Homo sapiens: one gene and its partner. The protein of the gene in region 1 interacts with the protein of each later gene in a pairwise test. Each region holds a gene or a part of one and is shown in the gene's direction. Other genes may lie near its edges.

The links.
Region 2: the proteins of GMEB2 (region 1) and MOB1A interact in binary tests that used the Homo sapiens proteins (3 or more experiments, as listed by UniProt).

The regions. Positions count from the first base shown.
Region 1 is NC_000020.11:63,588,817-63,592,632, reverse strand, and holds part of GMEB2 (glucocorticoid modulatory element-binding protein 2), read left to right. Parts: coding exon 1-100; intron 101-488; coding exon 489-611; intron 612-1,903; coding exon 1,904-2,544; 3' UTR 2,545-3,816. UniProt on the Homo sapiens protein: Trans-acting factor that binds to glucocorticoid modulatory elements (GME) present in the TAT (tyrosine aminotransferase) promoter and increases sensitivity to low concentrations of glucocorticoids. Also binds to the transferrin receptor promoter.
Region 2 is NC_000002.12:74,151,901-74,155,068, reverse strand, and holds the end of MOB1A (MOB kinase activator 1A), read left to right. Parts: 3' UTR 1-2,541; downstream 2,542-3,168. UniProt on the Homo sapiens protein: Activator of LATS1/2 in the Hippo signaling pathway which plays a pivotal role in organ size control and tumor suppression by restricting proliferation and promoting apoptosis.

The DNA.
Region 1 (3,816 bases):
GGCCTGCTGGACGAGGTCATCCAGGAGTTCCACCAGGAGCTGGTGGAGACCATGAGAGGCCTGCAGCAGCGGGTCCAGGACCCTCCCCTGCAGCTTCGAGGTGAGAAGCTGCATCTTCCCTCTTGCTGGCTACTCAGCCCAGGAGTCTCTGCAGGAGGTGAGGCCACTGGCCCTCCTGCCCCTAGGCCCTTCTGTGCTGCTGGGTTGGAGGCTGAATCTAGGCTTGGGACTCCTGCTGTGCTGAGGCTGAACTTGGTGGGAGGATCGCCTTGATGTATCTCAGTCTTCTCCCTCTGAACTGAGCTCCTGGCTGGCTGGGTTCCTGAGGAGCAGCCTCAGTGGTGGTGTTCTCACTCTCTAGGAAGAGCCCAGGCTCTCACCGAGCGTCCACGTGACTCTCTAGGAAGGTCCCGGGCTCTCACCGAGCGTCCGCGTGGCTCTCTAGGAAGGGCTTGGGCTCTCACTGAGTGTCCGCGTTACCCTTTAAGATGCTGTACTTCTCAACAACATCGTGCAGAACTTCGGCATGCTGGACCTGGTGAAGAAGGTGCTGGCCAGCCACAAGTGCCAGATGGACCGCTCGCGGGAGCAGTACGCCCGGGACCTGGCAGGTATGCTGAGACCACCCCCGTCCCGTCCCCTGGGCGGTAGGCTGAGGACCTGGAGCCCACGGGCTCACCCCACGGCTGTGCATCCACCTGCACTTCCTGGAGTCACCGCCACCACGGCGAGCTTCTCCGCACTGCTGTTGTGCGAGGAAAACAACCTGAAGCTTAAGTGAGGTAGTCAGACCTCTCCATTGCACTAAGCTTACATTTACCGGCATTTCTGTGATGAACCAAGTAGTTATTTAAGAGAAAATGACAGAGGCCAGGCGCGGTGGCTCACGCCTGTTATCCCAGCGCTTTGGGAGGCCGAGGCGGGCGGATCACTTCAGGCTAGGAGTTTGAGACCAGCCTGGCCAACGTGGTGAAACCCCATCTCTGCTGAAAAAAACAAAACAAAACTGGGCATGGTGGTGTGTGCCTGTAATCCCAGCTACTCGGGAGGCTGGCAGGCAATTGCTTGAGCCCAGGAGGTGGAAGTTGCAGGGAGCTGAGATCACACCACTGCACTCCAGTCTGGGTGACAGAGCGAGACCCTGTCTCAAAAAAAAACAATGACAGAGAATGGGAAGGGCTGGTCCTGACCCCGCTCAGAGCTCAAGCCCCTGATATTGGTGCGTTTCCTCCATGCTCCTCTTGGGGTCTGTGCTTACTGTGTGTTCACTGTGTGTGTGTTCAGTGTGTGTGTGTTCACTGCGTGTTCACTGTGTGTTCAATGTGTGTGTATTCAGTGTGTGTGTTCACTGTGTTCAGTGTGTGTGTATTCAGTGTGTGTGCACTGTGTGTTCACTCTTCACTTTGTGTGTTCACTGTTTGTGTTCATTGTGTGTGTGCACTCTGCATGTGTGTGTGCATGTTTATGTTTAAACACATGTGCCACATGTGCTGCTTTTCCTCCTCTCTCTCTTAATATGTCACAAGAGCAACTTTCCACGCTGGGTGTGTGAAAGCTCATGCGGGGATCTGAGACGGCATTTCCACGCTTGCACGCAGGCCCTGGGTCAGTGCAGGAGGGTCTGAGACGGGATTGCCACGCTTGCACACAGGCCCCGGGTCAGTGCAGACCCTGGGTCAGCACAGGCTGGTGTCTACCCCGAGGGCCATCTTGGGCCCCGTCTCCCACAGACCTCACCTTTGGCGGCCATGTGGTCATCTGGGTTTGTGGCATCAGGTGAGCAGACCTGGGTTGCCACTGACCCAGGGGCCACCCAGATGGTGTGGCGTGTCTGCCCCCATCCCCTGCATGCCGCCATCCATGCCCCCGTCCCCTGTGTGATGCCATCTGTACCTCCCTGCAGCCCTGGAGCAGCAGTGTGATGAGCATCGTCGCCGAGCCAAGGAGCTGAAGCACAAGTCCCAGCACCTCAGCAACGTGCTCATGACGCTGACGCCGGTCTCCCTGCCACCGCCTGTGAAGCGGCCCCGGCTTGCACGTGCCACATCAGGACCGGCCGCCATGGCCTCGCAGGTGCTCACCCAGTCTGCCCAGCTGGCGCTTGGCCCGGGCGTGCCCGTCCCCCAGCTGACCAGCGTGCCCCTTGGTAAAGTGGTGTCCACCCTGCCGTCCACCGTCCTGGGCAAGGGTTCCCTTCAGGCGCCCCCCGCCAGCTCCCCGGCCTCCCCGCTGCTCGGGGGATACACAGTCTTGGCCTCTTCCGGCTCCACCTACCCCAGCACAGTGGAGATCCACCCGGACGCGTCCAGCCTCACGGTCCTGAGCACGGCCGCCGTGCAGGACGGTAGCACGGTGTTCAAGGTGGTCAGCCCGCTACAGCTGCTCACGTTGCCTGGCCTGGGCCCCACCCTGCAGAACGTGGCCCAGGCCTCGCCTGGCTCCAGCACAATTGTGACAGTGCCCGCAGGGGCTGCCCCCGGGCCTGAGGAGCACACGGCCACCATTGAGGTGGCTGCCATGGCAGAGGACCACGAGCGGAAGTAGCCGACAGGAGGGCGAGGCCCCTGGGACGGACAGGGCTGGCTGTCTCTCAGCCGCGGCAGCAGGGAGCGGGCAGAGGCCGCAGGGCTGGCTCGGGCAGGTGGGTCACGTGGTCTGCAGAACCAAAGAGAGGAATCGCCAAAACAAATCACGAGAAGAGAGAAGGGGACAGAACAGCGAGAGCAACCTGGAAAATCGGTCTTCAGGTCCCACGTTTCCTCCCCCTTTTTTCTTGGGAAATATATTTTTCCATCTGTTGCTTATTAATACTGTTTACACATTGGGCCTTGATCAGGAGCCAGGTGGGCGGGGGCTAGGGGGAGCCTGGGTGCAGCAGAGACAGAGGAAGCAGAGCCAGGTGCCGAGCGCGACCCTGCAGGTGCTGGACGCGGTGCAGCAGGTCACGAGGCCCCCATGTCTGCACCCAGCCAGGTCCCTGGGGACGTTACTAACTCATGACTTGGGAGCTAAGCCCAAGTGTGAAACCTCTGGATCCTATGGATTTGGTTTCTTCCCACAGTTTTCTGTAGGTTTAGTGTGGCTGGCGCCCCGTTCTCCTCCAGTTGGGAACATGCACCCGGAGCTTGGGGTGCAGATCCTGATGGGTGCCTGCCTCCCCCGCCCCCAGCCGGTGCTCAGGTGGCCCAGGGGCCGCACAGACGAGGCGTGGTCCAGGCATTGTTGCACATGTACTGAGGGTGTTTTTAAGTGAATTGCTTAGTAGGCTTCTAGGAAGAGTCAGATTTATAGCATTTTCAACCAAAATAATGGTGAGTGCCTAGGCTTCCCGAGTTAGCTCTTTGGGTGGCCCCTGAGCCCCTGTGAGTGCACTTGACCGGGTGCGGAGGTCCTGGGCAGCCTGTCCCTGAGCCGGCCCCTCCCAGGGGTCTGAGATCCATGAGGTGTGTCCCTAGGGCTTCAGTCCTGGGGCAGAGGCATAAACAGAACCAGTCACTATGGAGGTCGAGGATTCCCATGTGGGCCCTTCAGCTTGGGCTGCTTGGCCACGGAACAGCCCTTGGCTCCCTGGCCCCCGGCCCCCATGCAGCCCCTGGGCTGGCCCTTGGTGGTCTCTGTCCAAGGGAGAGCCCCTGGGTGTTCAGGAGGCTGCCCCGGGTGGGCTGCTCAGGGCAGCTGCCGAAGGTGGAGCCCAGAGCCTGTCTGGAAGGGCTGTCTGTGGCTGTCCTGAGACCTGGCCTTGGACTCACAAGGAAGACCAGGCTGAGGCCCCTCCAGGCCAGGGTCCTGGGGCAGGCATCTCAGGGAGCAGCCAGC
Region 2 (3,168 bases), on another chromosome or scaffold:
TTGATAAAGGTTAGATTTGATGTTTTTTTTTAGATTTATTTTTCTTACTCCACTAAACTATAAAGAAAATAATTACTTAGAAACTCCATTTTAAATAATCATTTCCTAGAAATTCTTAAATATATACAGAATTTTAAAGAAAACATTTCATCTGATTTAGTTAGCATCCACATATCATTGAGGAATTAAAGTGTGGGACAGTCATTATTAAAAAAAAGAGAGAAAAGCCCTCTATTAGACATTCCACAATCCATGTTTTAAGCTTATCCAAAGGTCCAAATGTCAGCCATTCTGTATGTTCATGTTGATCATTTGCGAACAAGAAAGCAGGTTTCTAGGTATCACTTAGGATGTGAACTGCCTCTCAACTTTAAACCCTGTTAGCTTTACTTTTTTAAGTCCACAAGTGATGAAACTAGTTTCTCAGCTAGGCTTGTACTTTCCTCATTATTTCTAGTATTTCAAATATTCTCAAACAAAAGAGTTACCACTTTTCTCCATTTATTTTCAGTTATGGAAATGTTCCCTCTCTTCACCACTAAGCTCCAAAGCAAATGAAAGACGATCACATGTCAGGACAGTAGTAAAGGCAGCTTATAAATGGGACATAAATCAGAGATGTGTTGGTATTTTGAGACTCAAGACTGTCCTTTTTTAAAATAAAAATAAAAACATTACCAGGTTCCCAAGCCAATCTGGCTTAACCAACAGTGCACTGAAATATTAGTGTTTACCTCCAAGGCTAGGGAGCCAAGGGGAGGAGGAGAATTGGAGGAAGGGGAGATAATGGGAAGAGGATGGCGCCTTCCTGAGTTGGCTAGAGGGCCAACCTTTGATAACAGTTTGACGAAATCAATCTTTTTTTTTTTTTTTTTTGAGACAGAGTCTCACTCTGTCACCCAGGCTGGAGTACAGTGGTGGGATCTCGGCTCACTGCAAGCTCTGCCTCCCAGGTTCATGCCATTCTCCTGCCCCAGCCTCTCCTGAGTAGCTGGAACTACAGGTGCCCGCCACCACGCCCAGCTAATTTTTTCTATTTTTAGTCATGCCTGGCTAATTTTTTGTATTTTTAGTAGAGATGGGGTTTCACCGTGTTAGCCAGGATGGTCTCCATCTCCTTACCTCGCAATCCGCCCGCCTCAGCCTCCCAAAGTGTTGGGATTACAGGCATGAGCCACCGTGCCCGGCCTATAGAAATCAATCTTTTTGACTCTTCTCACTTTTATCTCCCCATGCCCAAGGTTTGCCTGTTCCATAACACTCACTCCCTTCCCCCTTGCTAATCAGAAGCCATCTCCTCTCAGTGTCTGATCTCTGCTCTTCATACATGATTACAGTCATGGGGTAGAGAGTGCTTGCTAAATTATGCAGTTAATCCTATGGTGCTTTAATTTTCAGGCCTTCAAAAAACACTTGTACAGTGATGTGCAGATTTTTAAACAGTTGAACTTCCTTGTACTACAGTTTTTGTATTGACAGCCAAATTTGTCTTTCATTCTTCAGATTGTGAATAAAGTGATTTTTACAGGGCTTCCAGCAAAGTTTTTCCTTTCATCTAAGGCTTGTAGAACCCTAGCTTATATAGCTGCTTACATGAGAAATGCAAAATCTGTATTCACCATGACTTTAGTAACAAAGGTAAAGTTTTTTAGTAGTGCCAAGGCAAGAGGAACAATCTTGGTGGTAGTACTAAGTTTTGTCAATATTGTGGTTTCCTGATTGTATTGTTGGCTTTCTCTCTGAGCATTGAGGTATACTAGAAGTAGAGCTTCTCAAACATAATATCATTACCTCATAAGCATTAACAAATCAGGCCCAAAGAGCGTAAGTCCTAGAAATTTGTTTTAAAGCAGCCCTAGTCATGGTGCTGGTGCTACCGCCTTGTTTTAGGAGCCTGCCTCCTGTCAGTATGAAACCCTCACCTGAAAAATGCCAGCCTGGACACCAAACACTGAGCCCCTTCAACAGGCACATTATTTCCCCCTGAGATCCATAAGGGAATTTAGTTTCTACTATTGTAGAGTTCTGAAAAGAGGTAAAATAGTAGTCCTTTGGTCATCCTATTTTTGCTTTCAATTTTGATATTTCAGACTGTAAAAGGCCTTGGGGGATGATAGTACATGTGGTAGCAGTAATTTTTTTGAAGCAACTGCACTGACATTCATTTGAGTTTTCTCTCATTATCAGATTCTGTTCCAAACAAGTATTCTGTAGATCCAAATGGATTACCAGTGTGCTACAGACTTCTTATTATAGAACAGCATTCTATTCTACATCAAAAATAGTTTGTGTAAGTTAGTTTTGGTTACCATCTAAAATATTTTTAAATGTTCTTTACATAAAAATTTATGTTGTGTTTTAAAATCCTTAGGGGCTTTATCTATTTTTCTAAGTCAGTTAACTGTACTTCTAAAAAAAGTATTTTGTATCTACTTTTGTAACTTCGTCAGAATAAAATATATTGAAAGCAAGAAATGACTGATTAAAGTATGTATATCAACACACATTTCTATTTAAATATAGAAACTTGAGAGTTTTGCAGATTCTGTGGATTTTTGAGTACAGCTTAAATTTGGAAAGTTATCTTTGCATATCATTTAGTAGCTAAAATGTTTTCTTAGCCGTTAAAAAAGGAAGTTCCTAAATGAACTAAGTATCATACTACTGGGACCGAACCCCTAAGAAACAAACTATGTCTCTGATAGTGGCTAAAACCCATCCCAAACAAAAATACGTGGTCTCCTTCCTGCCATGCAAATCAGGCTCCAGATCTCTTGTACATTCCTGGTTGTGCGATAGTAGAGTTAAAATTAAAAACTTAATGAATGTGGCTAAACAGTACAAGTTAACACTAATTTTATTTTTTTGAGCTGGGGTCTCTGTTGCCCAGGTTGGAGTGCAGTGGCACAGTCTTGGCTCACTGCAACCTCCGCCTCCCAGGCTCAAGTGATCCTTCTTTCTGAGCCTTCTAGTAGCGGGGACAACAGGCACACACCATCATGTCCGGCTAATTTTTTGTATTTTTTGTAAATATGGAGTTTTGCCATGTTGCCCAGGCTGGTCTCGAACTCCTGAGCTCAAGCAATCTGCCTGCCCCGGCCCCAAAGTGCTGGGATTACAGGTGTGAGCCACCACACCTGGCCTAGTTACTAGCAATCAGTTTTGGAT